Linked DNA regions of Homo sapiens. The protein of the gene in region 1 purifies or fractionates together with the protein of each later gene. This does not show direct contact. Each region holds a gene or a part of one and is shown in the gene's direction. Other genes may lie near its edges.

Region 1 (5,782 bases):
AACCCCACCAAACCCCACTAAGACAAAAGTTACACTTGTAATTCTTATGAAAGTTTCACTTGTAATCCTTATGAAAGGATTATACTTGTAGTCCCTATGAAACACATATGTATACCAAGTCTATTTCTAAAGCCTACACATTAATTTCCATTTTTCTAAGAAATTAAGTCAAAGATCAAAATCTAAAGATTCAAATCTAATTTAAAGATTCAAATAGAGGCCAGGCGCGGTGGCTCACGCCTGTAATCCCAGCACTTTGGGAGGCCGAGGCAGGTGGATCACGAGGTCAGGAGATCGAGACCATCCTGGCTAACACAGTGAAACCCTGTCTCTACTAAAAATACAAAAAAATTAGCCGGGCATGGTGGCGGGCGCCTGTAGTTCCAGCTACTCGGGAGGCTGAGGCAGGAGAATGGTGTGAACCCAGGAGGCGGAGCTTGCAGTGAGCCAAGATCGTGCCACTGCACTCCAGCCTGAGCAACAGAGCAAGACTCTGTATCAAAAAAAAAAAAAAGATTCAAATAGAAATTATAGCTCATCCCTCCTTTGTCCCTGATTTGATTTGTAATCTGTAATTTATAGATCGAAATTCTATGCATCAGGACTGTAAATTTAGGCTTTTTTTTTTTTTTTTTTGGTGAATTTAGACCTGTGGACCACACACCAAGTAGTCTGGCCATTCTGTTTCTTAACCCTTTAAATCCACTTCAGCACAGGTAGTAAAGATTAGATTTTCCAAACCTAAGCTTAAAGCTGTGGTGTTAATGGCAGTGTTAATCATCACAGGGCCCATACTCTTCAACTTTACAGCTGGTGGGGCATTCATTTTTTGGTTTGTTTATTTTTGTTAGTTTGTTTTTGAGACAGTCTCGCTCTATCACACAGGCTGGAGTGCAGTGGCGTGATCTCGGCTCACTGCAACCTCTGCCTCCCAGGTTCAAGCGATTCTCCTGCCCCAGCCTCCCAAGTAGCTGGGATTACAATTAGCTACTGCCACCACGCCCAGCTACTTTTTGTATTTTTTGGTAGAAGGTTTTTACTATGTTGGCCAGGCTGGTCTCAAACTTCTGACCTCAAGTGATCCGTCTGCCTTGGCCTCCCAAAGTGCTGGGATTACAGGCGTGAGCCACTGAGCCCAGCCAAGTGGGGCATGAGTTTTCTCATAAAGCCAGCAGGGCAGAGTGATTCCTAGTATAGCAGGGCATGTGTTACACTCATGTCACTTTTAGCAAATCCACGTTGCCTTTTCAGCAAAATTCATTACAGAGTTAAGAAAAACATGCCCTGGTAATTTTCTGTTAGAAGGAGCAAAGATTTTGAGTCCACCACAGTGCACATCATGTCAGCATCATTGCTTTTTGTGTCTTTCTAGTTGGTGGACCAACTGGGTGATCCCTGCCATCTCTGCAGTGGCCGTCGCCTTGATGTATCGCCTATACATGGCAGAGGACTGAACACCTCCTCAGAAGTCAGCGCAGGAAGAGCCTGCTTTGGACACGGGAGAAAAGAAGCCATTGCTAACTACTTCAACTGACAGAAACCTTCACTTGAAAACAATGATTTTAATATATCTCTTTCTTTTTCTTCCGACATTAGAAACAAAACAAAAAGAACTGTCCTTTCTGCGCTCAAATTTTTCGAGTGTGCCTTTTTATTCATCTACTTTATTTTGATGTTTCCTTAATGTGTAATTTACTTATTATAAGCATGATCTTTTAAAAATATATTTGGCTTTTAAAGTATGCACCGTGTTTGCCTGTTTGGTGTATAATTGTCTTTAATGTTTAGAATCTGGTTATTTAGAGGATTCCTTCAATGTGTTACTCATCCAGACCCACAGAGGCCATATGACTGGAGGTGCGGGAAATAGGTTTGAGTGTCTCCTTTCACATCGTCACATCTCATTGAGTAACCATGTATTGTATGCTTCCGATATAGTTTCTTTTTTTCAAGGAAATTAAGAAAGGCCAGAAATTATAGTTTAAGGATTTCTAATAATTGTCCTACTTGAAATAGATCTTAAAAAGAAAGTAGCGGCTGGGCATCGTGGCTCACACCTGTAAGCCCAGCACTTTGGGAGGCTGAGGTGGGTGGATCACTTGAGGTCAGGAGTTCAAGACCAGCCTGACCAACATGGTGAAACCCTGTCTCTACTAAAAATACAAAATTAGCAGGGCGTAGTGGCGCATGCCTGTAATCCCGGCTACTTGGGAGGCTGAGGCAGGAGAATTGCTTGAACCCAGGAGGCAGAGGTTGTAGTGAGCTGAGATCGCGCCGTTGAACTCCAGCTGGGCAACAAGAGTGAAACTCTGTCTCAAAAAAAAAAGAAAGTAGCCTACAGGGCCTATAAGAGAGACTTCTTATCTTCACTGATTGAAAAACATCAGCAACTTAAAAACACATGAACCATGAGAGGGCATCGCAACTGTCCATTCTCTCAGCTTACACGTATCATTGCAAAGGCACTCACAGCTTCATAGGTTCTAAAGTTTTAAGAATTCCTCATTCAGAGAGTAGAATTGTTTGTAAACTCTTCTAAGGAAAGGCTGGTTTTCTAATTTGTAAGGAGATTGTGGGACATTGGAATCTGATCTTTGAAGAAATTTAGCGGCTAGTGTCAAGCTCTGAAGAGTTCTGGTGTGGCTCTGTCTCCTCCTGGGGGCTCTAAGGGGCTGATTCAGTCATCTTACTTCCCATTTATTATTCTCTGCCTTATGTGTTATTCTTTTAAATGTGGAAACTTGAAAGCTGAATTTGTTAGAACCCAGTACATGTGTCATTGGCTGTGACTGCATTTGCACTGGCATGAGCTGACAAACCACGAGGTTCTTCAGAAGTGACCGCGTGCAGTGGAAAGGAATTGTGTTGTTCTTACAGAGTACAACCTTTATAATCAAATAGGATGCACCGCCTTTGCCTTCTTTAGTCACTGAAAGTTGACAAGTAGTTTCTATTTCAAAATAAATTACAACACTTGTTAAGGGACCTATGTAAATATTTCAATATTTTTGGTTGTGATTTTTAGCTATAAAGCTTCACATTTTAGTAGTTTTTAAAACATTGCTCCTAAATCAACTATGAAGTGAATCGAAGTGGGTCAGTCGTACCTTAGATGACATTAAAGGGTTAACTTGTAAATCATTTTTAAGATGTTGAGTAATAGCATCTGTATATCGTTAAGAAACATAACAGTTGAACTTTGACATTTTTATCAGTGACTCAGCAATTTGCTGCTGTGGCTGGCAATGTTTCTTCATGTGTTTTGGGAACAACATGTGGAGTAAAGGAGAGTTTACTTCCTAATTTTAACATTTACAGTTTGTGCAGCCAGACTCTCAAGGAAAGATATTTGACACTTTTTTCTCTATTGCTTTCCCTTCAGAGAGGTGAGAGACTTCAGAGGCTGCCCTTTCTTTTCATCTGCTGCTTGTGAAAGGAAAACATCTTGGGCCCCCAGAATCACTAAGGAAAACTCAAGCTGGAAACTGCTTAGGGCCAACCTGCCTCCCATTCTACTCAGTCAAGCCTCTGCTCACTGAGAGAGAGGCATATCTGATTGCTTCCTTTGGAAAGGCTAATCAGAAACTCAGAAGAATGCAACCCTTTGTGTCTCACCTCTCTGTGACCTGGAAGCTCCCTCCTGCTTTGAGTCTTCCTGCCTTTGCTTCAAGGTGTCCCGCCTTTCCAAACAGAACCAATGTACTTCTTACATATATTGATCAATGTCTCATGTCTCCCTAAAATGCATAAAACCAAGCTGTGCCCTGACCACCTTGGGTACATGTCATTAGGACCTCCTGATGCTTTGTCACGGGCATGTCCTCAACCTTGGCAAAGTAAACTTTCTTTTTTTTTTTTTTTTGTTTTTGAGACAGAGTCTCACTCTGTCGCCCAGGCTGGAGTGCAGTGGTATGATCTTGGCTCACTGCAACCTCCGACTCCCAGGTTCAAGTGATTCTCCTGCCCCAGCCTCCTGAGTAGCTGGGACTACAGGCGTATGCCACCATGCCTAGCTAATTTTTTTGTATTTTTAGTAGAGACGGGATTTCACCATGTTAGCCAGGCTGGTCTTGAACTCCTGACCTCAGGCAATCCACCCGCCTCAGGCTCGCAAAGTGCTGGAATTACAGGCATGAGCCACTGTGCCGGGCCTATTCCTTGACTTTCTTAATAAAGTTGTTTTCACTTTGCACTGCGGACTTGCCCTGAATTCTTTCATGTGCGAGGTCCAAGAACCCTCTCCTGGGGTCTGGATTGGGACCCCTTTCCTGTAACACAGGGACTGTATTGGGTGCACGTGTGTCAGTTGCTCACCTCCTGGGTTTGAGTTGATGATTAGGGCTCTGGTTGGAACAGGCATCTCCCTTCCTCTGGAGGTGTCTAGATGAAGGCAAGTGGAAGTTCTGGAAGCAGATTCTCCTTTGCAGCGTAGCCTTTCTGAGAGGTGTGCAGACACAGATGGCGTCCGGATCCTCAGCTTCTACCTAGATTGTGGGAGTTTCCCTAGGCTGCTGTAACCAAGTACACCACAACTGGGTGGCTTAGAACGACAGAAATGTGTTCTCATAATTTAGAGGCCAGACGTTGTAAATGAAGGTTTCAGCTGGGCCACTCGCCCTCCGACACTCTGGGTGGAATCCTTCCTCACCTCTTCCAGCTGCCACTGGTGGCCAGCAGTCCTCACCTGGCGGTCCTCACCTGACAGTCCTCACCTGGCGGTCCTCACCTGACAGTCCTCACCTGGTGGTCCTCACTTCACAGTCCTCACCTCATAGTCCTCGCCTGGTGGTCCTCGATGTGGTCCTCACCTGGCGGTCCCCACCTTGTAGTCCTCACCTCGCAGTCCTTGGCTTCCGGCTGCGTCACCCAGGGCTCTGCCTCTATTGTCACTGACATTTTTCTCCCTTTGTGTCTCTGTCATAAGGACACATTGGATTACCTACCCCAGCATGACTTCATCTTAACTAATTACATCTTCATGATCCTGTTTCCAAATAGTCACACTGAGGTGCTGGGGTTAGGACTTCAACATATGTTTTTGGGGGACGTAGGTCAACCCACAGCACATTCTTTTCTCAAAGTGACCTGATGTTTATGCCTGCGCTTCTTCCTTTACTCTCTTTCAACTCAATTCCTCTTCTCCCACTTTTCAGGAAAGAGGCGATCTTAGCTCAGGCCACTCCAACAAAATACCTTGGACTGGGTGGCTTAAAAAGCAAACATTTGCTTCTCACAGTTCTAGAGGCTGGAAGTCCAAGATTAAGGTGCCAGCAGATTCGGCGTACTCACATGGTAGGGAGAGGAAGCAAGCTGTCTCGGGACTCTTATGATGACACGATACTACCCCACCTCCTCATACCTGCACATTAGGGGACAGGGTTTCCATATGGGAATTTGGGGGAGACATTCCATCTGTGACAGAGACCTATTTCTCACCCATCCTGAATTTTAATATTGGATGTGAAAGCTACTGTCAAACATGGTACATAGTGGGGTCGTGAGTCTCTGTAATAGAGACACTTCTTTAATCAAGGTACCCCACCCCAAGTCAGGCTTTGTGCTTTCCTTGTCTGGCGTGTGCTCTGCTGACGGTGAATCATAGAGTAGGAACGGGGCGATTTAGCCTTCTGGAGGGTGGTTGGAGTTCACATGGACAGTCAGCAGCAGGGGTGATGACATTGCATTGAGCAATATCTGTTCTACCATGCTTTCACTGTCTTTGATGAAGGCCTCCCTCCCTCAGGAGTGCCCTGGGAGACTGGTCAGATACATGAAATCATCT
Region 2 (9,164 bases), on another chromosome or scaffold:
GAAAAAATATGAAATGAGAAAATTATTATCTACTTAGTAATAAGCAAAGTTAATTATAATTAGAATCAAATAACACATCTCTTAGAAAGACATAGCCTCTTAACAGGTACCGGCTAAACTGATGCTTTTATTCAGTACGTCTAAGGAAGCGTTTGATAAGGGATACCATTCTTCTGATGGGCATCCCAAATAATTAGCTTTTATAAAATAGATAAGTAGTAATCCCATTCATGACTCTTAAAATTATCTATAATTTAAGATAAACATGTGTGAAGGTCACTTAGCCCTCATACCTTCCGGCTGCTAAAGCCAAAATCATTACTTATAAACCTTGAGCAACCCTGCCATGTGGAAGCAGGAAGAATGGGTGGTTTCAGTGAGGTTCTGTTTGCTGTGATCCTTATCTAAATATGCTATCATCTATGTCTTATCAAATCTGCTATAAATCCAGAGGTCCTAAGTAATTCAGGTAGAAAAGTTACCTGAAAATGGGGCAAAATAGCATGGCACAAAACAAACCAGAGCCACATGGAGTTAAAGACGAGAACTATTTAAAGGGCATAACACACAGAAAAGTATTACTAAAAAGAATATGACACTCATTTTGAAAAGCACATGTTAGTACACAGAGAAACGGTTGGATTGTGAGCATCTGATGTTTGCAAAGAATTCTGAAAAGCAGCCAGGCTGAAATTACTGTTTTTCCTGTCTGAAAATGGTCCTCAAGGGCAGATTTGCCACATGACCTTCCAAAGCAGATTGACAGCATGTAAATCAAAGTCTGCGATGTCGGTTCTCTTGAGTTTCCAGATTCAAAATTTCACAGCAAAAAGCCTAATGGAATAGAACTGAAAGGAAAAAGAGCAAGACTTCCTCAGAAGCACAGCCAAAACAAAAACAACAAAAAACCCAAACCCAATAAACAAACAAAACACTGTCTGATATTCAGATGCTGAGTAGAGGTTAAAGCAGTTAGCAGCTTTGGCCTAGGGAAGGTAAGTGGAGCTGTGAGTATAAAGTAAACGTAGGGTCCCATGGAAGAGGCTGACAGAGGTGACACCCAGAGGGTGAGTCAGCCGTCATTTTATTGGGATTTTACTGTCTGCAAGGCTCTGCTGTGAAGTTGGTGAAGAAGGCAGCAGTTGTAGTCTGTGCTCTCAAGCTTAAAATCCACCAAACGGGTGGCGAAAAGAAGAGCAGAGCACCCAGCTGGAAGGAAGGGGGAGGCAACAGCCAGTCAAGGAGACGCAATTAGTATGAGAAGAATACTAGAGAGTCTTCATCCTGCTGCTGAAGCTTTATAGGAGAGGAGGCAGACGGTTCAAGGGAAGAAGGAGAGGGTGTCTTAGATAGCAAAGGTGGATGGTAAGAAATGGATCATGGTTCAGGGTTCTTAACTCCAAGAAGGGAGAAGTCAGTCTTTAGTATAGAAGTAGAGCAGGTATACTCTGTGCTGGTTGAAAGCATAAGTAGATGTAAATTGGGGACAGAAGTTTTTCTTAATCAGAAAAAGAAGGACTGTTAGAAGACTGAACAGAAGGCAGAATCCTTCCTAATCCAATACTTTTTTAGCTTCAGCTTAACAACGAAAGGCCAGACTTACACTAGACTTTAAACAGGTATGAAACTGGGGAAGACGCAACCAGGAACTTACCCGGAATGTCATCTTCATAATTCCTGCCATTGCCATTGTTTTAAATTATTGGATGCTCAAATGAGGGTTTGGTAAATGTCACACGTTTTGTGCAGTCTCCTTTATTCTGGAAAGGAGGTCTGATGGTTATGGGACAAAGCCGCATTCACATTTATTTTTTTTTTGAGATGAAGTCTTGCTCTGTCGCCCAGGCTGGAGTGCAATGGCGTGATCTCGGCTCACCACAACCTCCCCCTCCTGGATTCAAGCGATTCTCCTGCCTCAGCCTCCCGAGTAGCTGGGATCACAAGCATGTGGCACCACGCCCAGCTAATTTATTTTTTATTTTTTTGTATTTTTAGTAGAGATAGAATTTCACTGTATTGGCCAGGCTGGTCTCGAACTCCTGACCTCAGGTGATGCACCTGCCTTGGCCTCCCAGAATGCTGGGATTACAGGCGTGAGCCACCGTGCCTGGCCCACATTCACATTTCTGAATGGTGTTTGACCTCTAAATCTTTGGTGAAACGCCTTTCATCACTCCTATTTTGAAATATAATCATAATAATCATGTAACATTTCCTAGAGCTTGGGCAACTCAAATTCATTATTCTTTGTGTGAGAATCAGTTTGGAAAGGAAGCGCTGGAACTCTGAAACCTGGCTTCATGCATGGGCTTGGGAAGGTCTGCAGTGGCTGCCAGGCTGTAGGAAAGAGGAAGCTTAAAGCATGAACTCTTTCTTCAACAGCTGTTTATTACGTGTTTAATAGGTGTCAGGTCCCACAGATGCAACTGTGAGCAAAACAAGATACAGTTTAAATAGTTATAGTTTTCAAATGGGTTTACAAGGGAAACCCCATGACTGGCAGATACCCATTTTCTTCTAATGACTGAATAAGAGGAAATATCTTAAAAGGAGTATAATTTGTTTCAACATTGTCATGGAACAATCCATCTACCTGTCTTCTTTTCCTTGGCACACTCTTGCTCCACAAAGATTTCCCATTGGTTTCATTGTTTGTCGTTATCTTGTTTCTCCGATCTAATTTGCTCTACTTCTTCCTTTGATCCTAAGTCCTACCTTTCAGTCACCATTCCTTCATCCATTCACACATACATGATACATCCATCTGTCCTCTATCCACCCCCAATCCCTTCATTTATTCAACAAATAGTGTTGAGTATCATGTCTCAGGCACTGTATATTATAGATATAGCAATAAACGGGAAACTGGTTTTTCCTTAAAGAAGCTTAAGAACTATCAGGAAGACAATGTGGAGACAGCCTCTAAACCATGGGGGTATGACTTTTTTTGGGGGGTGGGCAGGGTCTCGCTCTGTCACCCAGGCTGGAGGGCAGTGGCGCCATCATGGCTCACTGCAACCTCTAACTCCTAAGCTCAAGCATCCTCCTGCCTCAGCCCCCCTCCCCCAGCAGCTGGGACTGCAGGCGTGAGCCACCGCGCCTGCCCTGGCGGTATCACTTCTAATAGAAGCATTTATTGGCCAATGAAACAGGATACTTCTTTCATTGAACAATTTTATAAATTGTTCACACACAGCATAAACTGTGCTGGGCAGGGAGGGATCAAGTGGTTAGCTGTTGACTGTTGTCCATTTTATATATTTTTTGTACCTTCCATGCTGGTTGAGCATAAGGATGGTAAACATTTGTTAATTAACTAAATGGGAAGAGTGGAATTTCTAACGCAGGAGACACAGAGGAAGAGAAGGCTTGTGTATTCTCTTTCTGAAAGAACAATCTGAGAGAGAGAATCTCTCAAGGTTCCCATTCATAGTGAATTACTCATAGATTTCCAGGTGACAACAGCTCCCCCCACATCGACTCAAAGTATAGCATTTTAAAAAAGAAAAACTACCTGCGTCCAATTACATACCCATTAGTTCACTGAATATCCTCATGTCCTTTGGAGCTGATTTCCCATAATACACTGCAAGTCTCTGTCTTGTTCTGATAAAAACAAGTGGGTTTCAACCCCCTACAGCTTTCTTAATAGTAACAGCAGTGCATCCAGAAACTAGTGGTGGCTCTAGAGACCCAACACGAACAGTGTTGAGACCTCGTTGCAGCACTTTCTCTGTGTTTTCTGATGTCATGAAACTCTTCTTAGTAGAATTATTTTCCCCCACTTAAGTTCCACCGTCAGCCTGGAAATTATATGGACAACATGACAAAGTTCCTCTGGAAAACCACACTCCTCTGCTTGGCTGACCTTGGGAGAAAACATTTAGCAAGTTCTTCTTTTTCTTGGTTATTTTAAACTCAGATGATATCAGCATGAAGCTGTTCCTAATAACTCTGGTTGGCACGGGCATCTCTGCTCTGTTTAGGTTAAACATCATAACTACTTCATGGTCATTTCTGTGTGGGATCCTCCAAGACGAGAGGTGCATTTTGAATTTTATGTTAGTTTGAAGCCAGACACTAAAATTCCTGTAAGGAGAGGGGAACAACACACACCAGGGCCTGTTGGAGAGTGGGGTGAGGGGAGGGAACTTAGAGGATGGGTCAGTAGGTGCAGCAAACCATCATGGCACACGCATACCTATGTAACAAACCTGCACATTCTGCACATGTATCCCGTTTTGTTTTTTTATAGAAGAGAAAAGAAATTCTTGTAGGAGATGATGCCTCAGTCTAGTTTATGCCAGGTAACCTGCAGAGGTCATTAGAGACACTGAGGTGACTGGCTGACTTACAGGATATGCAAGAATGATGACAGCCTGCCTTCACTGAGGGCCTCCTATGTGCCAGTACATGGACTTCACATTTATTAACTCATTTTAGCCTCATAACAAAGCTAGTGTGTGAAAACTCTCATCGTGCTCCATTTTACAGAGAGAGAAAGTAAAGATGAGGGAGATTAAGCAGCTCAGCTAGGTCATAAGAAGGAGCAGAGCTGAGACGTTAACCCAGATCATCTGGGCTCTGCTTTCCCCTGTACCTTCACACCTTGCCATGGCATATTCCACAGTCTGTCTCCCATGCCCAGTGCAGAGCCTGGCACATAACAGATATGTGGTAAATTTATTTTTTAGTTTTGTTTAAAATGTTAAAAGTGAGACTGGTCTTTCTTTTAAGAGGCCAGTCTCACTTTGTTGCTCAAGCTGGCCTTGAATTCCTGGGCTCAAGCAATCCTCCCGCTTCAGCTTCCCAAGTAGCTGGGACTACAGGTGTGTACTAACATGCCCAGCTAATATTTTTCTTTTCTTTTTTTTTTTGAGACAGAGTTTTGTTCTTGTTGCCCAGGCTGGAGTGCAATGGCGCAGTCTTGGCTCACTGCAACCTCTGCCTCCTGGGTTCAAGCGATTCTCCTGCCTCAGCCTCCTGAGTAGCTGGGACTATAGGGGTGCGCCACCACACCTGGCTAATTTTTTTGCGTGTGTATTTTTAGTAGAGACAGGGTTTCCCCATGTTGGCCAGGCTGGTCTCGAACTCCTGACTTCAAGCAATCTGCCCAGTGTGGCCTCCCAAAGTGCTAGGATTACAGATGTGAGCCACTGCGCCCGTTCCCCAGCTAATATTTTTCAAATAATGAACAAATCTCTACCGTGTAGACCTCTGCATGCCTTTCATCCCAGTTGTTAAGAACAGCAAAATTACTGCAAGAAAGGGTAGTATTTTAGAATTTGGAGAAAAACTAACAGCAGTACTTTATAAGACAAGCTACTATAGTTTTCAGGGAGTGTTGTTTTTATTATGGTTTAGCCAGAGATGGTGGGAGAAGGGAAAGGGCCTTGTGATTAAAACCATCTGAGTGACAATGCAGTACATACATTAAATTAAAGATGAACTCTTCTCAAAACCAATGTGTAACCCAGGATTGAACTTGACTGAGCAGCTGCTCTCAAGGACACCTGTGGTGGCTGCTCTCAGAGTTCCCAAGGCGGTGGGTGGATGGAGTCAGAGGCTTTCTGTTCTTCAGTGGACTTTCCACAAATCCACCACGGGGTTTAAAGGCAGATTATTATCTGCAAAGACCCTGCCAGTGCTTATCTTAGATCAACTCTGAAATGAGAATGGGAGACTTGAATTGATCCTGGAGTGAAATTTGGTCTCTTGCCCATCTCCATGGGCTCCTCGTGAGCTGTCAGTCTTCTGTGGGTAGAGGTTAACCGAGGCGGATGAAATTTTAAAGAACTATCTGTCTATGCAAGCACATCTTCTTCCCAGGATACTGCAGCCATCAGCAGACAATCAATGCAATCATCTCAGACTGTGTCCTGCGTCCCAGGAGTAAGTCATCAGGCTCATTTCTTTTCTTGTCTCTTTTCTGCTGGGGGAAGGGCAGGTTGCAAGGCGGATGGTGAGCAGATTCTTCGGCCTTTTGTGTGGGTAGCCTGCATAGGAACCATTTCTATGCCTGTGAGTCCATTTCTAGCATCTGCCTCCAGCCTCTGCTTTCCTGACGCTCTCCCATCACCCCATTCACCCTTCATAAAACAGTCACTCTTTCTAGATGCATAATTACATGCCATGACAATGATTACAGTCCTCTCTTCATAACTGCACTGGGTGCTCATTCATGGCATGGAGGTATGATCGCATCGTTTGTAGCATAGAGCAGAGTACCCAGCACTGAATATGTGTTGTGGCCTAGAGAAGAGATGGGCACAAGAAGTCAGGTCATCAGGGTTGCCTCATCGCTGGCCTCCTGGCCAGGGCCTCAAGGGTGACATTCCTTGAGGGCGAGGTGTTTCTCAATCTCGATGTTGAGATTTTGGGCCCATTAATCCTTTATTGTGGAAGAGGCCAACCTGTGCAGAATCGGATGCTCAGCCACATTCCTGGCCTCTAACTGTTACATGCCAGGAGTAGTCACCCCACTCCTACTTGTGACAGCCAAAAATCCCCTAGAGGGACAAACTTGCCCACAGCTGAGAACCACTGCTTGAGGGGGAATTCCCGGCTCTGTCAGGTACACTCAGGAATCCGGTTGGTCCGATCAAAGCAAACCCATTTCTGAGGACTAATAGGGTCCTAACCAAAGTGGCAATTCATTAATTTAAATGAAGAAATACTTTACATGGGAATTGAAAAATAATAGTAAACCAACTTAAAAGTAGACACGTGGCCGTAAAGTATTCAAATATTTAGTGCTTTCTGCCCTGATAAGTCTGCGTGGGGGTCATGCTGGCACCAAGGCAGCCCGGTGCAGTGAGGAAATGGGCCAGGCTCGGTGGCCTGATAGGACCCCTTCCACACCCAGATCTGTGCAGACAGGCCCTCCTCGTTCCCCTCCCCACCCACCAGCTAAGGGAGCCTCCTTTTCCAAACCTCTCTGGAGTGAACAGATTAACATATCTCAAGAACAAATTGAGAGAGGCACTCACAAACCTGCTCCCACCTGGGGATTTCATTACTGTTTCCTTGACCTTCACAGTGAGTGCTGCGCCCCTGCAGTCCAGCAGTGGGTACTAATCCAGCACCCAGTCCAGCAGTGGGTACTAATCAGCACCCAGTCCAGCGGTGGGTACTAATCCAGCACCCAGTCCAGCGGTGGGTACTAGTCAGCACCCAGTCCAGCGGTGGGTACTAATCCAGCACCCAGTCCAGCGGTGGGTACTAGTCAGCACCCAGTCCAGCGGTGGGTACTAATCAGCACCCAGTCCAGCGGTGGGTACTAATCCAGCACCCAGTCCAGCGGTGGGTACTAATCAGCACCCAGTCCAGCGGTGGGTACTAATCCAGCACCCAGTCCAGCGGTGGGTACTAATCAGCACCCAGTCCAGCGGTGGGTACTAATCCAGCACCCAGTCCAGCGGTGGGTACTAATCAGCACCCAGTCCAGCGGTGGGTACTAATCCAGCACCCAGTCCAGCAGTGGGTACTAATCCACCACCCAGTCCAGCAGTGGGTACTAGTCCACCAACCAGGTCTCACTAGTATTAATTTGCCTCCTAGCATCCATCCCCACAGTTGCTGGTATTTCAAGCCTTTCTTTCCCTTTCCGTCCCTGGTGCTTCTCACTTACAGGAGGGGCCACCTTTACTTCCTTCCCAGGACCAGCACCCTGCCCTGCCTGAAGTTAGGCTTCAGCTCCCCAGCCCTGGGGGACTCTAGGGGTCCCATAACTAGTCCTGGGTGACCCTAGGGGTTCCATAACTGCTGTGTCCCTCCCTTTTATCTTCCCATCTCGCTTCTCCCTTCTCGCTTTCAGGCTCTCAAAGGTCAACAGAAGTGGGGTCAGTTATTCCAACTCCCCACCCAACTCCAGAATCCCCTTTCAGCGTTTCTTAGGGAGCCCGTGCATTCAGCCCGCAGGAATACAAAGAGGGAGCCGACCCTGCAAGTGCCTTTGAGGAGCCTGCTGCCCAGAGGGCAAGACGGAAGCCTCAGCGAGGGGTTCCCACGCAGTGGATAAGACTTGCAGGGCAGGGATGCGCGGGCACGCCAGGGGGACCACCTCACCACCCCTGCCCAGTCTGGGCTTCCTAAAATACTTCCTAGAGAAGAACAGCCCCCACGTTAGGTCTGGAAGTGGGGAGTATTGGTCCCAGTGTGCACGCTTCTCACGGAGTGCCAGAGACCAGAGGAGTGGGCCAGTGGGTGAGGTGGGACAGGGCAGGAGGCTGGAGTTTTCCTAGACCACAGAGGAATGAGGTGGGCTGGCGTGGCAGGAAGCAGAGAGAGGCTGAGCATCCTGCAGCTCTGGGAGGGGAGGCCCAGAAGAGGCACAGGTCTGAAAGCCAGGAGGGTTTGGTAACTTGTTGTATGGAGGGTGTCTTTGACGCCCTGAGATAGTAAATATAGGGAGAAAGAAGGTCACTTTCCAATCATATTCTTCCCAAATGGTCACTTATCATATTACACCTTATAAGGTGATCATTTATGTACTTTGTAATCAACATGTGTTACGCAGCACTTACTAGAAGCTGTCTGCTTTGTATAACACCTCATTTCAGCTTGCCCCCAGCCCTGTGGGTTGCCAATTATTTTCTCTAATCTAATTTGAAACTGAGGCACAGAGAGGTTAACTAACCCTCCCAAAGCCACAGAGCTAGCAATGCCTGAGCACACTGTGATTTTACTAAATATTGTAACAGAATTACATGGACTTGCATTTCATATTCTTGCCTTTCCTGAAATTTTCCTGAATTTTCTTTTAGGGTGAAAAGACTTCCCATTGTTTCAAAATGTGCAGAAACTTCCCATCACAGCCCCCCAAATCATGTGGAAATCTGGAAGTTACTTAAGACCAGATGATGTAATGAAGATGTTGTGGGGGTCACTGAAATCCTCATTTGGACTCCATCTCTAGAGGAATAATAGGGTTAAAGTTTGAGAGGAGGTCGGGGGAGAGGACCAGAGAGATATTTTAAATGTGCCTAATTCTTTTAATTATTTATATTCATTCCAATTTTTGCCACATTAGGACTTATCTCCTGCTTTCCATTCCTTCTGTCTTCCCCAATGGCTGAACTGTTGTCTTTTTCTTGTTTGTTTTTGTTTTTCGAGAGAGTCTCGCTCTGTTGTCCAGGCCAGAGTGCAGTGGCATGATCTTGGCT
Region 3 (9,164 bases), on another chromosome or scaffold:
TGCATTTTTAGAAACAAAATATACAAAGTGAGAAAAAAACCTTCAGAGGACAGATGAATGTCGCTTGGGTTTTAAAAAGGAAGGGTGTTAACATGCATAACAGAAATAAATGATGGCTAGCTAATTACACTGGTCCAGGAGTATGGTTATTCTTTATTTTGATATTCTTGAAATTTTTGATTTTTTATAAAGTTGGAAAGTAATTACTTTTTAAAAGATACACATGTAACTTGAAGCTAGACTCATTCTTTTTATTGCCAAGAGTAATGGTGTTAGTGTCACCTAATGGCAAAATGGAATATTGCAGCTATACTTATAGGCTATAATGAAAAGGTAACCTAATTAGAAAGAAAAATAACATTTCTGGGGGGATTTTAGGCATGGATCAGTAGACTTACTATGGCTTACAAGGTCCCGTGTTCTTTAGCCCTAGCCTGCTTGTCCTGCCCCTCTATCACATTACTCATTTGGTCACTGAGCAGATTGTGTAATAGTAGGGTTCTTTTTTGTCTTTCAGGTTTAGGCTCAGATATTTTCCTCTCAGAGAGCTTTTTCCTACCACCTTAATTTGTCCGTATACTTCCCATAGCTACTGTTTGTCACATTAACGTGTTTATTGTTTGCATAGCCTTTAGAGTGACTTGGAATCACCATTTGCTCCCTTTTTATTTGTTTTCTTACTAGTATGTAAGCCCCAGAAGTGCAGGCTACTTGTTTTCCTTATTCACTTAGGTAACCTCAGGGCTGAGTTGTGTCTGTTATATAGTGTATGTCTGCAGTTAAACTTAGTTGTGTGAGTACATGAACTTCTGGATATGATAGTGAGTGTTGTTTCTATGCTGTAGAGATCTATCCAGAAAACAGAATTACACTGTGTTTGATTACTGAAACATTATTTGCTACGTGAAGGCAATATAGAAGCTTTTTTCTTTTTCTTTTTGGTGTTAATAAGTGATAATGTGTCAGGAAAGAGAAGCTATATGTCTTAGGATGTTGAATTCTGTATTAGTCAACTTTAGTTACTCAGAAAAAATATTTGCAGGTACAATATTCGGTCTTGAGGAGATAAGTTTTTTTTTGAAGCATTTAGATTTAATTAATATAGCAGTGTCAGTGAATATGGTTTTGTGTCTGTGTGTGCATTTGTAGGTATTTCTAGTATCATTTAATTATTTCCTCTATTAAAAAGAAAACAGTATTTCTAAGAGAAATGAGAGTGAGTGTGTCAGGTAAACAGTGATAAATCTGGTTGAGATATGGACTGGTTTGTGTAAATTTTTAGGTAACAATATGGCTCTATTAGTCTGGAAACTTAGGATGAAGAGAGAGTACATTTCCATTAAGTGGCTCAGTCCAAGAAGGTAGCCTCCCTAACTTTGAGATAATTATCTAGCCAGCAGGATTCTTCTTCACATAAACCATTTTTAAAGCTTTATTAGTTCATGTTTTTAATTAGTTCATGTTTTTAATCAGTAGGTTTTTTTTTTTAATCCCTTTTGTTTTTCCAGGTGGTTGTGGGAAGAGAAGTTTGCAGAACTGAAATGGAGGTCAGAGCTTCATTACAGAAGGTTAGTGGATCATCTGATTCTGTGGCTACAATGAACAGTGAAGAATTTGTTTTGGTTCCTCAGTATGCAGATGATAATTCTACAAAACATGAAGAAAAACCTCAACTGAAGGTATTTTTTTCTTTTCTACATATGGTATAATTTTTAATTAAAAACTATTTGAAACTTAGGAGATGTGTAAAATGCAAAGGTTTTTCTCAAGTGCTGACTTTCAAAATAAAATCAATGTTTGATTTATCCAGACCCTAATTATTTGGTTTGTGTATTTTAAAAAGTTCTTGCTTTTGGTTGTTTACCTTTTGATTTGGAATTTTAGGGGGAAGAATAAAAGAAGAAAAAGAAGAGAAAGGATTTTTTGGTGAATTAGACATAATGGTTAAATTTTACATTACTTTATCTGGATGTTTTTGTTTCTCTTACTGCTGGGTTTTAGAAGTTAATTAAATGTTTTGCTTTCACTTGAGAGACTTTTTTCTTTATGATTTTTATGTTTTAAATCAGCTGGTAACGTTCCGTTGTGTGATTTAACAGTCGACTTGTCTAAATGTTTTTAAAGCATATCTTATATTTTTAGCATTTGAGTTTTTATTTAGATATGGTCCCTTTTTCACTTCTGTGTTGCACTTTCTAAGTCAAAGAAAAGGAAGCAAGTAAACTCAGTTATATAGGCTTGAAAATGGTATAACTGTCTTCTAGAAACAGGAATAGGAAAAGTAGTTAAAAGTGCTATATATTACTTATGACTTTTATTTAGTATTAACTATGGCATCAAAAGTGTATTAATATATCAGTCTAATAAAATATATTCTGAAAATGAGATTACTAAATGTTTATGTTGAGAATATATTGTTTTATAATTTTATTTAAATAATCAGTGGCTTTATTTTTAGATACCTGTATTTTAGCATTATTGTGTTTAAGACATCACTTATTTGCTTAGGCTTTGTGTTTCACCTGCCTTTGAGAAAACTATGAGTCAACTTAAGTGTAAGGAAATTAGCAATATTCATCTTGGGAGCTAGCCAACAATTTGTAAAGAAATCAGAAATATGGTTATGCTGTGCTAACAAGAAATATAACCTTTTAAATGATATTCATAATAGACCCGATTTAAATTTACCTATTTTTTCCTTTAGACATGTAAATTTAAGGTTATCTGATTTTTAGGGTGTGTTCCTAAAAAAGAAAAAGAAAAAGAAGGGCCAGGCGTGGTGGCTCATAGCCTGTACTCCCAGCACTTTGGGAGGCCAAGGTGGGCAGATTGCTTGAGGTAAGGAGCTCAAGACCAGCCTGGCCAATGTGGGGAAATCCCGTCTCTACAAAAAATACAAAAATTAGCTGGGTGTGGTCGTGCACGCCTGTAGTCCCATCTACTTGAGAGGCTGAGGCATGAGAATCGCTTGAACCCAGGAGGCGAAGTTTGCAATAAGCTGAGATTGCACCGCTGCATTCCAGCCTGGGTGACAGAGTGAGACTCTGTCTTTAAAAAGAAAGGGGAAAAAAAGATAAATACATCTCTGTAAATAGGATCTTATATAAAATGTAGTTGGAAACTGTCTTAAGTGTTTTATAAAGAATCCTTTTGTGAAACTAATAATCTTCCTCTAATTTAGTTTTATAACCAGGATTTTAATGTATTATATATGTGAAACAACTTCTTAGTATTTTAGTAACTATATTTAAATATTTAGATTGTTTTAATTTCTTCTAGAAATGAAATACTTTCATAAAATTTAGCTTCAGAACTATGGTAGAATTGAAACAGAATTGTCTTGCTGTGTCTGTAGATAGTTTCTAATGGTGATGAACAATTGGAAAAAGCCATGGAAGAGATTTTGAGAGATTCCGAGAAAAGGCCAAGCAGTCTTCTTGTTGATTGTCAAAGTTCCAGTGAGATTTCAGACCATTCGTTTGGAGATATTCCAGCCAGCCAAACAAATAAGCCATCTCTTCAGTTAATTTTGGATCCGTCTAACACAGGTACTGTATTGAATTCTTAGAAACTATTAAAGAAATGGGATAAAGTAATAGTGAAAATTTTAAGATGAAAATCAGAAAAAATTGTTAGCTCTTCTCAAGCTTTCAGTTCTTGTTGAGAGTTTCCACTTCGGTGTTATGTTTCTGCCTATATCTCTGCCTATAAAAATCAGGTCTTAATGTTCTTTGGGAACAAAGACTATGTCTGGGTCCTCATTTTACCCCTAGTACTTCATGCATGGTAGGTCCTCAACAGATACTTACTGAACAAATGAGTAAATACTTGGGTGTCACAGAATAGTGTAATGGAGATAGTCTTTCATGTGATGTGCCTTTTTGCTCAGTTTCACTACACTTATTTAAAGTTATATTTAGTAAAAACTCTAAGTAAAACATATCAATTCCAACAGTGTATTAAATAATAAATACATCTATGAATAATTAGGATTTGTACTTTGAATACTAGCTTATAAGTCAAGATGCTTTTGGGTGCAAAAATAAATAAAACCAAAACCAGCTCCAACTTCAGCTGGCTTAAACACCACAGGTATAATTTGATCTAGGCTCTGATGGTGTTTTTTTGGTAACTACTCAGCTCTGATCTTGTCTATGTTACCTTTCTCCTTAGCTGGTTACAAAGTAGCTACCAGCAGAAACTGGTAGGTAAGGGAAGGTGACCTGTTTGTGCCTGGTGGCAAAGAGAAAGTCTTCATTCTTTTACTGATTTTTAAAATTTCTTTGGTGACACGATCTCATTCTGTCATCCAGGCTGAAGTGCAGTGATGCTGTTCAGCCTTCTGAGTAGCTGGGTGTGTACCACCATGCCTAGCTAATTTTTTTTTTTTTTTTGTAGTGATGGGGTTTTGCCATGTTGACCAGGCCGGTCTTGAATTCCTGGCTTCAGGTGATCTGCCCACCTCAGCCTCCCAAAGTGTCGGGTTTACCAGTGCAAGCCATTGCACCCATCCCTGGCCTGTTTTACGGATTAAATAAAAGTTCTGAGTTTTACTCTGATTGGACCAGTGAAACCATTTTCTAGTAGTGAGGGAAATGACATGAACTGATAGCTGTAGGCCTGGGTTACATTCAAACCTGTAAATAAGTCACTCTGACAGAGGGGATGGGATTATCCTAATTGGCTTAGGAAACTCGTGATTCATTTCTGAACCAAATGAACCTTGGTACAGGGTAAGTATAGGTATAGCCAAACTGTTACACAATAGGGCTGTGATGCATTTATGTAGGGAATGTAATCACAGTGCCTTCCATGGCAAGGATGATTAAGCATTAGAAAAATCTTTCAGTGTGGTTTACCACATAAAGTGGTGAAGAGTGAAAAAGTATCAGTAGATAAAGAACAAGCACTGGATAAAATTTAAAATTTTACATGTATATGCACATGTAAAGTTCTTGGAAAACTTAGAAGGAAACTTGCTTAATCAAATATCTATCAAAGTCTTATGTTTTATGCTGAAATTTAAAATGCGTTACCATCAAGATATATTGAAACAGGAGCAGTTAGGGCATGATAGCTATCACCATAGCTCTTTGACGTTGTACTAAAGAATCCAGCCAATGCAAGATGACAGGAAAAAGAAATGAAGTGTGATTAGAAAAAAAGTGAAAAAATTCTCATGATTGGTAAAGTATTTAAGAAAGTGAATGGATAAGCTATTAGATTTAAAGACTTTTTGCCAGGCATGGTGGCTCATGCCTGTAATCCCAGCAATTTGGGAGGGTGAGGCGGGCAGATCACTTGAAGTCAGGAGTTTGAGACCAGCCTGGCCAACATGGCAAAACCCCGTCTCTATTAAAAATACAAAAATGGCTGGGCGGGGTGGCTCAAGCCTGTAATCCCACCACTTTGGGAGGCCAAGATGGGCAGGTCACGAGATCAGGAGTTCCAGACCAGCCTGGCTAATATAGTGAAACCCCGTCTCTACTAAAAATACAAAAATTAACTGGGTGTGGCAGCACATGCCTGTAGTCCCAGCTACTCAGGAGGCTGAGGCGAGAGAATCGCTTGAACCTGGGAGGCAGAGGTTGCAGTGAGCCAAGACTGCACCATTGCACTCCAGCCTGCGTGACAGTGAGACTCTGTCTAAAAAAAAAAAAAAAAAAAAAAAAAAAAATTAGCTGGGCAGGGTGGTGAACACTTGAAATTCCAGCTGCTCAGGAGGCTGAGACAGAAAAGTCACTTGAACCCAGGAGGTGGAGGTTGCAATGAACTGAGATCATGCCACTGCACTCCAACCTGGGCAACAGAGTGAGACTCCATCTCAAAAAAAAAAAAAAAAAAAAGATTTAACGACTTTTAGGAAGGTTAGCACCAACAGTAGAAAATAAAATTGCCATTCATAATACCAACAAAAATAATAGGTAACAAGGAAGAAACAAAAATTTATGTAAAATTTTAATAAAATTATAAAATGTTATTGAAGGAAATGAACACCTGAATGAATGGGGAGAGATGCCATGTTGATTGATAGGAGTCAACCTTGAAAAGATGTAACTTATCTCCAAATTAGTCTGTAACTTGGGTGGGAATTTCAAATTTTCAGTTATTTTTATAAACATTCTGAAATGTATCTGGACAAGTAGAGGTACACAGGTAGCTAAGAAAATTTTTAAAAAGAATATTATGTATTAAGATAGACTACAGAGTTACAGTGATTAAACCAATGTGATATTGGCTTGTTATAGAAGTGAATCACTAGAACAGGGTACCAGAAACAAACCTATGTATATAAAGGATTTCAGTATATGACAGAATTCGCTTCACATACCACTGGGGGAAATGGTAACTATGCAGTAAATAGTGTTGGGACAGTTGCATCTTTGAGTGCAATAAAATAAAATTAGGTTCCTTAGTTGTACATAAAAATTATTTTTAGTGAATCAGATATTTAAAGTGAGAAATAAGCCTGTAAGAAGAAAACAATGGAGCATATTTTTGTGATTGTCAAGGTAGGAAAAGCCAAATCACAAAAGGAAAAGATAGTTGCATATCATTATAGAAAAATTTAAGTCTGGCCTGGGCATGGTGGCTCACACCTGTAATCCCAGCACTTTGGGAGGCCAAGGTGGGTGGATTACTTGAGGTCAGGAGTTCAAGACCAGCCTGGCCAACATGGTGACACCCGGTGTCTACTAAAATACAAAAATTAGCCGGGCATGGTGGTTCATGCCTGTAATCCCAGCTGAGAATCTGGGCAGGAGAATGGCTTGAACCCAGGAGGCGGAGGTTGCAGTGAGCCAAGATTACACCACTGCACTCCAGCCTAGGCAGCAGAGTGAGACTCCATCTCAAAAAAAAATTTTAAATCTGAGTGCAAAAGACCATTTAGGTTATCTATTTCTTCTTGAGTGTACTTTGGTGTTTTCATCTTTCAAGTAATTGGTTAATTTCACCTAAGTATGGGGATAGAGTTGTTTCTCTGTTATAGAGTAATATTCTCTTATTATCCTTTTAATGTCTGCAGGATGTGTATTAATATCCTCTCATTCCTGATATTGACATGTATTACATATACATACATTGAAAAACCTACCAGTCTAATAATTTTGCTTTCAACAGCCATACGTATATTTCCTTGAGCACTTTAAAAATGCTTTTCCAGTGTCTTCTTGTCTCCATTGTTTCTGATAACAAATCTGAAGGGATTTGAATCATTGTTCTCCTATTTGTAATATGTTATTTTTCTTTGCTTTCAGTACTTTTATTTCATTGTTTTCAGCAGTTTGATTATCTGTGTGTGGTTTTCTTTGAGTTTATCTTTTTTTTTTGGATCACTGAGATTCTTGAATCTGTAAATTTATATCTTTAACCAAATTTGGGAGTTTTCACCCATTATTTCTTGGTAATTGTTTTGTTTCTACACTAATCTCTTTCTTTTCTGGGACTCAGTAGACAAAAATGGTAGACATTTCCATACCGTTCTCACAATTCCTTAGGCTCTTTTCATTGTTTTCCCTGTGTTCAAGCTCACTGACTTTTTACTTTGTTAATCTCCATTCTGCTATTGAGATCGTCTGATGAATTTTTAATTTTAGATATTGTATTTTTCTGTTTTTAAATTTACATTGTTTTTTAAAGTTTTTTTGTTTCTCTGTGGATAGTTTTGATATTTTTATTCATTACAGGTGTTTTCACGTTTATTTTATGGATTATTTATGGAGCAACTGGGACATCTTGGGATTGGTCTGTGGATTATTTTTTCACTTGAGAATAGATCACCCTTTTATGTTTGTTGAGTAATTGGCTTGTTCCCAGAGTTTTCGAATCTTATGTTTTGAGACTATTTCTTGTTAAAATCCTCTGAAGAATGTTGACTTTTTTTTTTTTTTTTTTTTTAAAGCAGACATTCCACCTGGTTGTGTCCAAACTGCAAGATCTGTCTTGCTTTCTGGTTCCAAAGTATTTTCAATTCTCAAAACCTTTGCTGTGCTTCTTCAGTCTGTTCCACATGCATACACAGTTTGCTAGTTTACACGCAGAGTTAGGGGATTATCTTCTTCAGCTCTCTCCTCTCTGAGATTTCCCCACACTCTCTGGCTTCCTTGGGCCATTTTCCTTCTACCCCTGTGTTAGAAAGACAGGTTTCTTTCTTAGAGTTTTTGCTGCTTTGTGCTGTTTTGCAGAATCATATGTCTGGAGCACTTTATGACAAAGTGGTGAGAGAAAAGAGAGGGAAAAATAATAGAGTTTTTCTTTTCCATTTTTGGGTTATAGGGGCCTCTTTGCTTTGGTATTTTAGCCTTTGAGACACATTTCTTTTCCTCCAGATTGTAGATGCTTACAGTACCACCGCGACTACCAGCATTTCAGGTAGTTCTGTGGTCGGGGCTAGTGGTAGAACTGGGAGAGAAAACAAAACAGAAACAAGTCATGATTTCTCAGATACTCTCTAGTTTGCAGGGACTTCTTTTTCTGTTATTTGGCTGGAAAGATTGGATTTCTTTGTTTTGTTGCTCACTGCTATTCTGCAACTCGGACCACCCTTAGGTCAAAACTGGGAGGTGATGATGAGAAAAATGGAAAACTCACCACTGTAATAGAGGTTCAGATTTTCACTTTCCTCTCCACTCTGGCTGTTCCTATTTACTTTTTAAAAGGAGGCTGGATGTGGTGGCTCACGCCTGTAATCCCAGCGCTTTGGGAAGCCAAAGTGGGCGGATCACTTGAGCTCAGGAGTTCAAGACCAGCCTGCGCAACATAGCGAAACCCAATCTCAATAAAAAAAGAAAGAAAGAGTCCTCCGGTCGTTGCTTTTTATATTCTGTCGAAAGTTTTCAGGTATAATCTGTGGGAGAGATAACTTATAACAGTAGGAGAGATAAATTGTAACAGGCTTATCACTTCAATTTCACTGGTCCAGTTCAATAATCTTGAGTCTGTTTTTGCTTCAGCTGTTTTGAAGTTCTGCTATTAAGGGCATAGTCACTTAGAATTTTTGTGTTTTCTTAATGAATTGACCATTTTAGCCTTGTGAAATATCCGTTTTCTTTTTGTTAAAATTCCTTGTCCTGAAGTCTAGTTTTTCTTATATTAATATAGCCACTTTTGGTTTCTTATGATTAGTATTTGCATGGTATATATTTTTCTTTTTCCTTTTTTTT
Region 4 (7,464 bases), on another chromosome or scaffold:
GGAGGTACAAGGAGAGAAACAAGAAGATAGAGGAAAAAATATGACTTGCATCCCCAGGAATCAAACAACCATGTTGACATGTCATATGCTTATTTCAAAAGTTTTCCTTACATACTCGAAGGCTTTTAAAAAAGTGATTATTTAATTTTATATCCTGCCCTTTCTTTTCAACATTATAGCATATATTTTCTTATCATTACGAACCCCTTTATAATTCCAAGTGCTTTTTAATGATTTTGTTTTTGAGATGGGGGTGTCACTGTGTTACTCAGGTCGGAGTGCAGTTGCACAGTCTCTGCTCACTGCATCCTCTACTTCCCAGGCTCAAGCGATTCTGCCACCTTAGCCTCCTGAGTAGCTGGGACCACAGGTGTGTACCACCATGCCCAGCTAATTTTTTGAATTTTTTTTTTATAGAAATGGGGTTTCGCCATGTTGCCCAGGCTGGTCTCAAATGCCTGAGTTTAGGTGATCCACCTGCCTCGGCCTCTCAAAGTGCTGGGATTACAGGCATGAACCACCATGCCTGGCCATAATGGTTTTTAATGAGTTATTTCTTTGATAGATATAACATAACATTATTTACGAAACCTTTCCCTGTTTTTTAAAATGTGGGATGGTTCCACTTGCTGCTATTATAAATACTGCCGCCCCAGGGCATAAAGATCAACAAGAATGCCTTGAGATTCTAGTATGTGTCAGGCCTTGGGCTGGGTTCTGGGGGAATATACATGGTTTCTGGTGTCAAGAATTTACAAGTTAGTTTGGGGGATAATGACATAATCCTAAATTAATCCTAAGCACTTTCCTTTTGTCCTTTCAGATAAGATGAAAATAATCATAAATAATATTGAATTTTTTTATAAAGAAAGCAGAACCAAGAAAGGATGTATATATTGATGGCAATTGATATATAGCACATGTCTAGATTGACCAAGACACAAAATGAATTGTTAGTCATAGCAAATATTGGGGAGATTAAGTTCAAACAGCAACTGGTCTAATTTGAATTTTAGTTTTGCCTGATAAATACCTAATAACTGACACCAGACTGTACATTTTCCCCCATGTAATTTAAATGCGCTGATTAGAGTTGGTTATTTTTCATAAATCCGAAAATGTGTAAACATTCATTAGGAACATGTGCATTAAATTGCAACCAACATTGGTGGCTGATTAACTGAGTTGCAGTTCTGGCTTTATGGGCCTGTTGAGATCTACTCTCCCCTTGTTTTCTTTTTTAGAATTACTTTGAAGCTCATGCAAAAGTATTCCAAAAAAGAATTATGAAGTTCATGAAACTACAACAGATTTTTTTTTTTTTGAGACAGAGTCTTGCTCTGTTGCCCCGGCTGGAGTAAAATGGTGCAATCTCAGCTCACTGCAACCTCTGCCTCCCCGGTTCAAGTGATTCTCCTGCCTCAGCCTCCCATGTAGCTGGGATTACAGGCACCCATCACCACATCTAGCTAATTTTTGTATTTTTAGTAGAGATAGGATTTCAGCATGTTGGCCAGGCTGGTCTTGAACTCCTGACCTCAGATGATCCACCCGCCTCAGCCTCCCAAAGTGCTAGGATTATAGGCGTGAGCCACCGCACCTGGCCCCAGACTACAACAGATTTTAAAAAGAACATCACGATGGTGGGTGTGAGTGTGAGTGAAGGGGTGTTACTGTAGAGCAGGGTGGGATAAACACAGGTAATAGACTAGGAAACAGCCTATCTGAAAGATGCTTTGAAACACCAGGATTTTGGTATATCAGAATGAAGTGTCCATGTGCCAGAGAACCAAGTCCTTCCAAACTCAAGCGTTTGAAGTAATAGACCAGTGGGGACTTCTCCAGAGTCTGGGCAGGATGATTCTAGTGCTGCCTCTGTGCTGTAAGCAGGGATGCATCTCACCACTTGTTTTCTTCTTGCAGATCGATGACCCCAACAGCAACCTTGAGGAGGCGATTAATGAGGCAGAGGCCATCACCTCTGTGAACAGCCTGGGAAGCAAGCAAGCCTTGAATACAGATTACCTTGATTCTGATTACCAAAGAGGACAGCTTTACCCATTCTCCCTTAGCAGTGATGTCCAGGTGGCCACATTTACTCTCACAAATTCAGCCCCAATGACTCAGTCCTTCCAGGAACGGTGGTATGTGAATCTCCACAGCCTAATGGACCGGGCTTTGACCCCACAGTGTGGCAGTGGGGAAGACCTATATATCCTCACAGGCACAGTGCCCTCAGACTACAGAGTTAAAGACAAAGTGGCAGTCCCTGAGTTTGTTTGGCTGGCAGCCTGTTGTGCTGTCCCTGGAGGAGGCTGGGCCATGGGCTTTGTCAAGCACACCCGGGACAGTGACATCATAGAAGATGTGATGGTAAAAGATCTTCAGAAACTGCTTCCATTTAACCCTCAGCTGTTTCAGAACAACTGTGGTGAAACTGAGCAAGACACAGAGAAAATGAAAAAAATCCTGGAAGTGGTTAACCAAATCCAGGATGAAGAACGAATGGTACAATCTCAAAAGAGTTCTAGTCCCCTTTCTAGCACCAGGAGCAAGAGGTCTACTCTGTTGCCTCCAGAGGCATCTGAGGGAAGTAGTAGCTTTTTGGGAAAACTCATGGGCTTCATTGCTACCCCATTCATCAAGCTTTTTCAATTAATTTATTACCTTGTGGTAGCAATCCTGAAGAACATTGTCTATTTCCTGTGGTGTGTTACCAAGCAGGTGATTAATGGCATAGAAAGTTGCCTTTACCGCCTGGGCTCAGCCACCATCTCATACTTCATGGCCATTGGGGAAGAGTTGGTGAGCATTCCCTGGAAGGTGCTCAAGGTCGTGGCCAAAGTCATCAGGGCTCTCCTCCGGATCCTTTGTTGTCTGCTGAAGGCCATTTGCCGAGTTCTGAGCATCCCTGTCCGTGTCCTTGTGGATGTGGCCACTTTCCCTGTGTACACCATGGGCGCTATTCCAATTGTTTGCAAGGACATTGCACTGGGCCTTGGTGGCACTGTCTCACTGCTCTTTGACACTGCTTTTGGTACCCTGGGTGGCCTATTTCAGGTGGTTTTTAGTGTCTGCAAGCGGATTGGCTACAAGGTTACTTTTGACAATTCTGGGGAGTTATAAACTCAAAAAACTAATAGTATCCAGTCACAGTGAATTTGAAAGCTGGAATAGTTTGTCTTTACAATGGGTTTCTGTTCACTGTCAGTTATCATTATATTTTGGCCTTTGGTGGGGATGTCTGCTTGTTTTTGCAAAAGAAGATGGCAGAATTTAGACTTGACAGAGGAGAAATGCTCAGGGTGAGATTAGGTGTAGTAATCTGCTGTTTACCTCCAGTTATATGTGCAAACTCCCAAGCCACTAATAACTTCAGTTATGCACTCTAACACAGACGACCACCTGAAATGCACTGGTATTTATTTCTGATAATTAAAAATTACAGGGGAGGGAAGAACTAGAAAAAGAACAACTTTAGACCAAAGGTGTCTGAGAAAAGGAGAAAGGGAGCTTGTTCTTCCCATTGCTCTTTGTGATTTAAGGCAAAACAGATTAAAAAAAAAATCTGCAGCCAATTTCTTGGCATTTGCTTCTCTTTCTCCTCAACTCGACTGACCTTGGTGGAATGCAGATAATGCCTCTTTGTTGAAATAACTTTGTGGGAATGTACAATTTTCTATATCTCTTAGCTTTCCGTGGTTCTCAAGGATATGTACAGTTTTCATTTTCCTCCAAAGTTGAATTTTGCTACATTTTTCTTTTAGGTAATGATAAGCATTTTTTAAAAAATCATTTTTAGGTAATGGTAAGCATTTTATGCCAAATGTGGCATAACAGAGTTTGAATTGAAGGGCAAAGTTTTCTTTTCTTTTTTTTTTGGGCCCCTTGAATGGTATAATACAGTCCTCTCCGGTGGAAAGAAGAGAAGAGAAGGTGGACAGCCCTGCTCTTAGTAGGTGCTGCAGATCCAAGGACATCTTTTGTCCAGCTTGGATTAACTTGACGTGTATCCCTGCCTGACAAGGTTGAACTGAAAGATCTATATGTTAAGCTAACATGAAAATTCATATTCTGCAACATAGTAGATTTTTCTAATGCATGAAATAAGTACCCAGCACAGTAAAAATACTCTGACTTATGTCCCTAAATGGTTGTTTTGATACAACTATATAGAAAAGAGCCACAAAATAAAGATAAAAGTTATTGTGGCCATCTCTGAAAAAAATATATAAAATATTTAAGAATAATTATATCTTAGGAAATTATTTTTACAGTGTGTTTGAGGCTACAAACATAACTCCCCCATTAATACAAATTAAATGTGAGAGCTCATTCTCAAAATTTTTTTGATCAAGCACTTGTCATTTTAAATCTTGCACTAAAAAATGGTAACAAGAGGGACCAAACTTTGCTTCCCACAATTGGGATGGAATCACCTGGATTTTTCTGAATGTTTTAAAGAATTGCTGAGAGGTAGAAACAGCCAAGTATGAAATACTGATCTTGGGGCTACCGCCCAGGATCAATCAGAAAGTTATATGCAAAAATTCGGGGTCCCAACAAGGAGAGAACAATATGTCAACCATTTGCATGGGGTCGATGGATGAGAAACATGAGCGTAGCAAGAGTTACATTTTGCAGAAAAATAGCGGAGGCACACCCAGAGTAGAACAGCAGCCAGCAAGCTGCCATCCTGATCAATTTGTGATGCAAGGTTAGGGAGTATGAGCACCGCATGGGTCCATGCTAGGGAGATGTGCACCAGGCTTAGCTAAGAAACTTAAAGCAGTATTTTACCAACTCTTGTCTTAGGGAGCATAAAGTTTGGATGTCCCTTTATTTCAGCAGTGTGAAGGTAAATGGAAGGGTGAGGGTTTGACTTGGTACTGATTGGTCAAGAATCCTGCTGGATAAAGAAAAGGAATTTTAGAAGTGACCAGAGGGACAGTCCAGCCAAACTATTATTTGATAAGGAACCCAAGGCCCTGGGAGGCAACAGGCTAGCCCTTAGTTTCATGGCTAGCTGAGAGCAGATTAGGAGCCAACGTTGTTTGCACATGTCCCATCACACCTGAGATGTCAGACATGGGAAGTTCGTGCTATTATTCAGTTGCCTCTCTGGACCATGGCAAGATTTCCTCATTCATCAAACAGACTCCAGGCCCTGACAAAGCAGTTGGATTTGGCATGTGTGATGAAAACAATTAGCCATCCATGTACAACATTATGCTTACTGCATCCCATGGAAACTTAATTCCCTCCTAGCACATATTTGCATACTGAAAGGTCCGAAAAGGGCATCCACGGCAGCTTGAGCCCCTTAGCACCATGTAAGGAGCACAGCATCCAAACGGCTTCTTGAGAACCATTGGGGAATGTCTTTCTTTTTCACATCCAATTGTTTAGTGTCTATTTATTCTTGGGTGGCCAGTTTTGAAACCTAAAAAGGGACAATAAAGCAAAAAGTATCAGTAAGGATAGGTGGCTGAGACCCACTGCCCTGAGCTACTAGTGTGGCTGTGCCTGTGGGTCTCTAGAACCATCTGCATTGGACGTGAAGCCACAGCAGGTGGCTGGACTGCTGGCCTGTTCCTAATGAGCTACGCTGGGCTTTGAGGTAGAGGTTGGGGTTTATGAACCCCAACTCTGGCTTAAAGATCTTGCTGTGGCTCTGTTATGTTCTGAGGCCTTGGGATTAGCCTCTTCCTCATTATGGAGCTGATTTTCTAGTCTGTGGATCAGCTATGCCTTTGGACACTTCTCTTTTCCATTGTGCCTTTTGAATGTTGTCTTCTCACTCAGCATCAGCACTTCGATCTAAATGCAGACTAGGTAGTTGGGAGGAGGAACCAAAGTGAACCATCCTTCATTTATTCAGTCATTCGTTCATCTGTCAAACACGTATTTGGACATCAAGGTTGCAGAGATGAACAATGCATGGATTTCATCTTTGAGGAGTTCAAAACCTAGTGGAGAGAACACATGGTACAATCGTAACACATGAAGGACAAGTAAGTGCTGCAGTAAAGGTACTAATAACATGTTCCTTGGAACAGAGGAAGAAAAACCACGAAACCATGGAAATTAGGGAAGCCTTTACAGAGGGTGTGACAAAACTCAATTTGACATTTTCAAGCTATGTACAATGATGTGCACCTTGCAGATGCTCAATAAAGTAATTACTGACAACTCGTTAGCAGTTCTGTAAAATATCTAAAAGGGGAGAATCCTAATAGTTGAAATGAGGCTTGGGGACTGTGAATTGTTGCCATTTTCTTCTTGATCCGCATTAATTCAAGCAGCTTCCAGTGACTGGCTTTTGTTCATTTCTTTAAAAGTTTGCATCATACATGAAAAAACAGAGAGGTCTGGATCAGTGAAACAGGACTTAGAACTATTTTTTAATGTTATTGCTCTGCAAAGTATTTGGGACAATAAGTGTTTTTGATATCTTGCATAATTAAGCACCAAAGACTTACTGCTTCACTGAATCTGAATCACATAGAAAATTATAGAAATACTTTTATTAGTTTGTTTATTCATTAGGAAGCTCCCACAGTGAGAGAAATTACAAGCAGTCTCTGACGGGGGCTGGTCCTCTCTGTGGCCTTTAGTAGGGTGATCCTCTTGGGTGGAGGTGGCAGTAATTCTTGGCTGCCTTCCCAGTGTGGGCAGCATCTTGCCTAAGCTCACCACAGAATACGTGTTTGTCCAAATGTTACACTACAAGCCATATAGTGTGGACTGCTTGCTTTTCATTAATGGGTTCTCAGTCTTCCCATTGTCTCTCTTTGTAGGTATTTTCCCCCAGGTCATGGATTGATGTCTAACTCCAAATCAATTTTTAAGCTTAAATTTCAACAAAGAAAGTGCTTATAACCACTTGTCATCCTCAATTATCCATTGTGAGGAGGTGGATGTAAGATGACTTCTGGAGGCCAGTACTTCCTAATGATTAAGAGCCCACGCTCTAGAGTCAAAATGATGTAGGCACAAATCCTGGCTTCCCCACTTATTGTGTGATCTTCAGCAAGTTACTCACCTCGGCTTTCTCATCTATACAATTATGAGTACCTATCTCAAAGGGTTGCTATGAGCATTAAATGAGTTAATGAACATAAAGCATTCATCACTTACCATGCTTGGCACATGGTAAGTGCTCAGCAAATGTTAATTGTTGCTAGATCTATTGTGGGCAATGATATTTACACTTCTTGGACAAAATTGGTTTGATGGTGCCTTAGAGGTTAGGATGTTTCTAGATCAACGCTGGAAGAACCAGGATCAAAGTGTGGTCTGGGAGTCAAAGTCATGAATGAAAATGAAGCAAGCCAGAACCTCATCAGTGGTGTCCATGAATCTGAAGGTACAGATGAGGGTTGGACCTGGAGTCTCAAAAGAGAAGGGTCAGAAAACTGAAACTCAACATGTGTCCAGCACTATTCAGTTTTATCTCATAAT

What was found.
Region 2: the proteins of CYB5A (region 1) and AGPAT4 purify together in Homo sapiens (affinity purification with mass spectrometry; 2 studies listed by BioGRID and IntAct, with this or other methods). This does not show direct contact.
Region 3: the proteins of CYB5A (region 1) and RABGAP1L purify together in Homo sapiens (affinity purification with mass spectrometry; 2 studies listed by BioGRID and IntAct, with this or other methods). This does not show direct contact.
Region 4: the proteins of CYB5A (region 1) and ENDOD1 purify together in Homo sapiens (co-immunoprecipitation; 3 studies listed by BioGRID and IntAct, with this or other methods). This does not show direct contact.

Annotation. Positions count from the first base shown.
Region 1 is NC_000018.10:74,249,256-74,255,037, reverse strand, and holds the end of CYB5A (cytochrome b5), read left to right. Parts: intron 1-1,372; coding exon 1,373-1,454; 3' UTR 1,455-4,192; downstream 4,193-5,782.
Region 2 is NC_000006.12:161,263,436-161,272,599, reverse strand, and holds part of AGPAT4 (1-acyl-sn-glycerol-3-phosphate acyltransferase delta), read left to right. Parts: intron 1-9,164. UniProt on the Homo sapiens protein: Converts 1-acyl-sn-glycerol-3-phosphate (lysophosphatidic acid or LPA) into 1,2-diacyl-sn-glycerol-3-phosphate (phosphatidic acid or PA) by incorporating an acyl moiety at the sn-2 position of the glycerol backbone.
Region 3 is NC_000001.11:174,217,617-174,226,780, forward strand, and holds part of RABGAP1L (rab GTPase-activating protein 1-like), read left to right. Parts: intron 1-1,508; 5' UTR 1,509-1,541; coding exon 1,542-1,679; intron 1,680-3,355; coding exon 3,356-3,548; intron 3,549-9,164. UniProt on the Homo sapiens protein: GTP-hydrolysis activating protein (GAP) for small GTPase RAB22A, converting active RAB22A-GTP to the inactive form RAB22A-GDP. Plays a role in endocytosis and intracellular protein transport.
Region 4 is NC_000011.10:95,126,454-95,133,917, forward strand, and holds the end of ENDOD1 (endonuclease domain-containing 1 protein precursor), read left to right. Parts: intron 1-1,923; coding exon 1,924-3,126; 3' UTR 3,127-6,192; downstream 6,193-7,464. UniProt on the Homo sapiens protein: May act as a DNase and a RNase. Plays a role in the modulation of innate immune signaling through the cGAS-STING pathway by interacting with RNF26.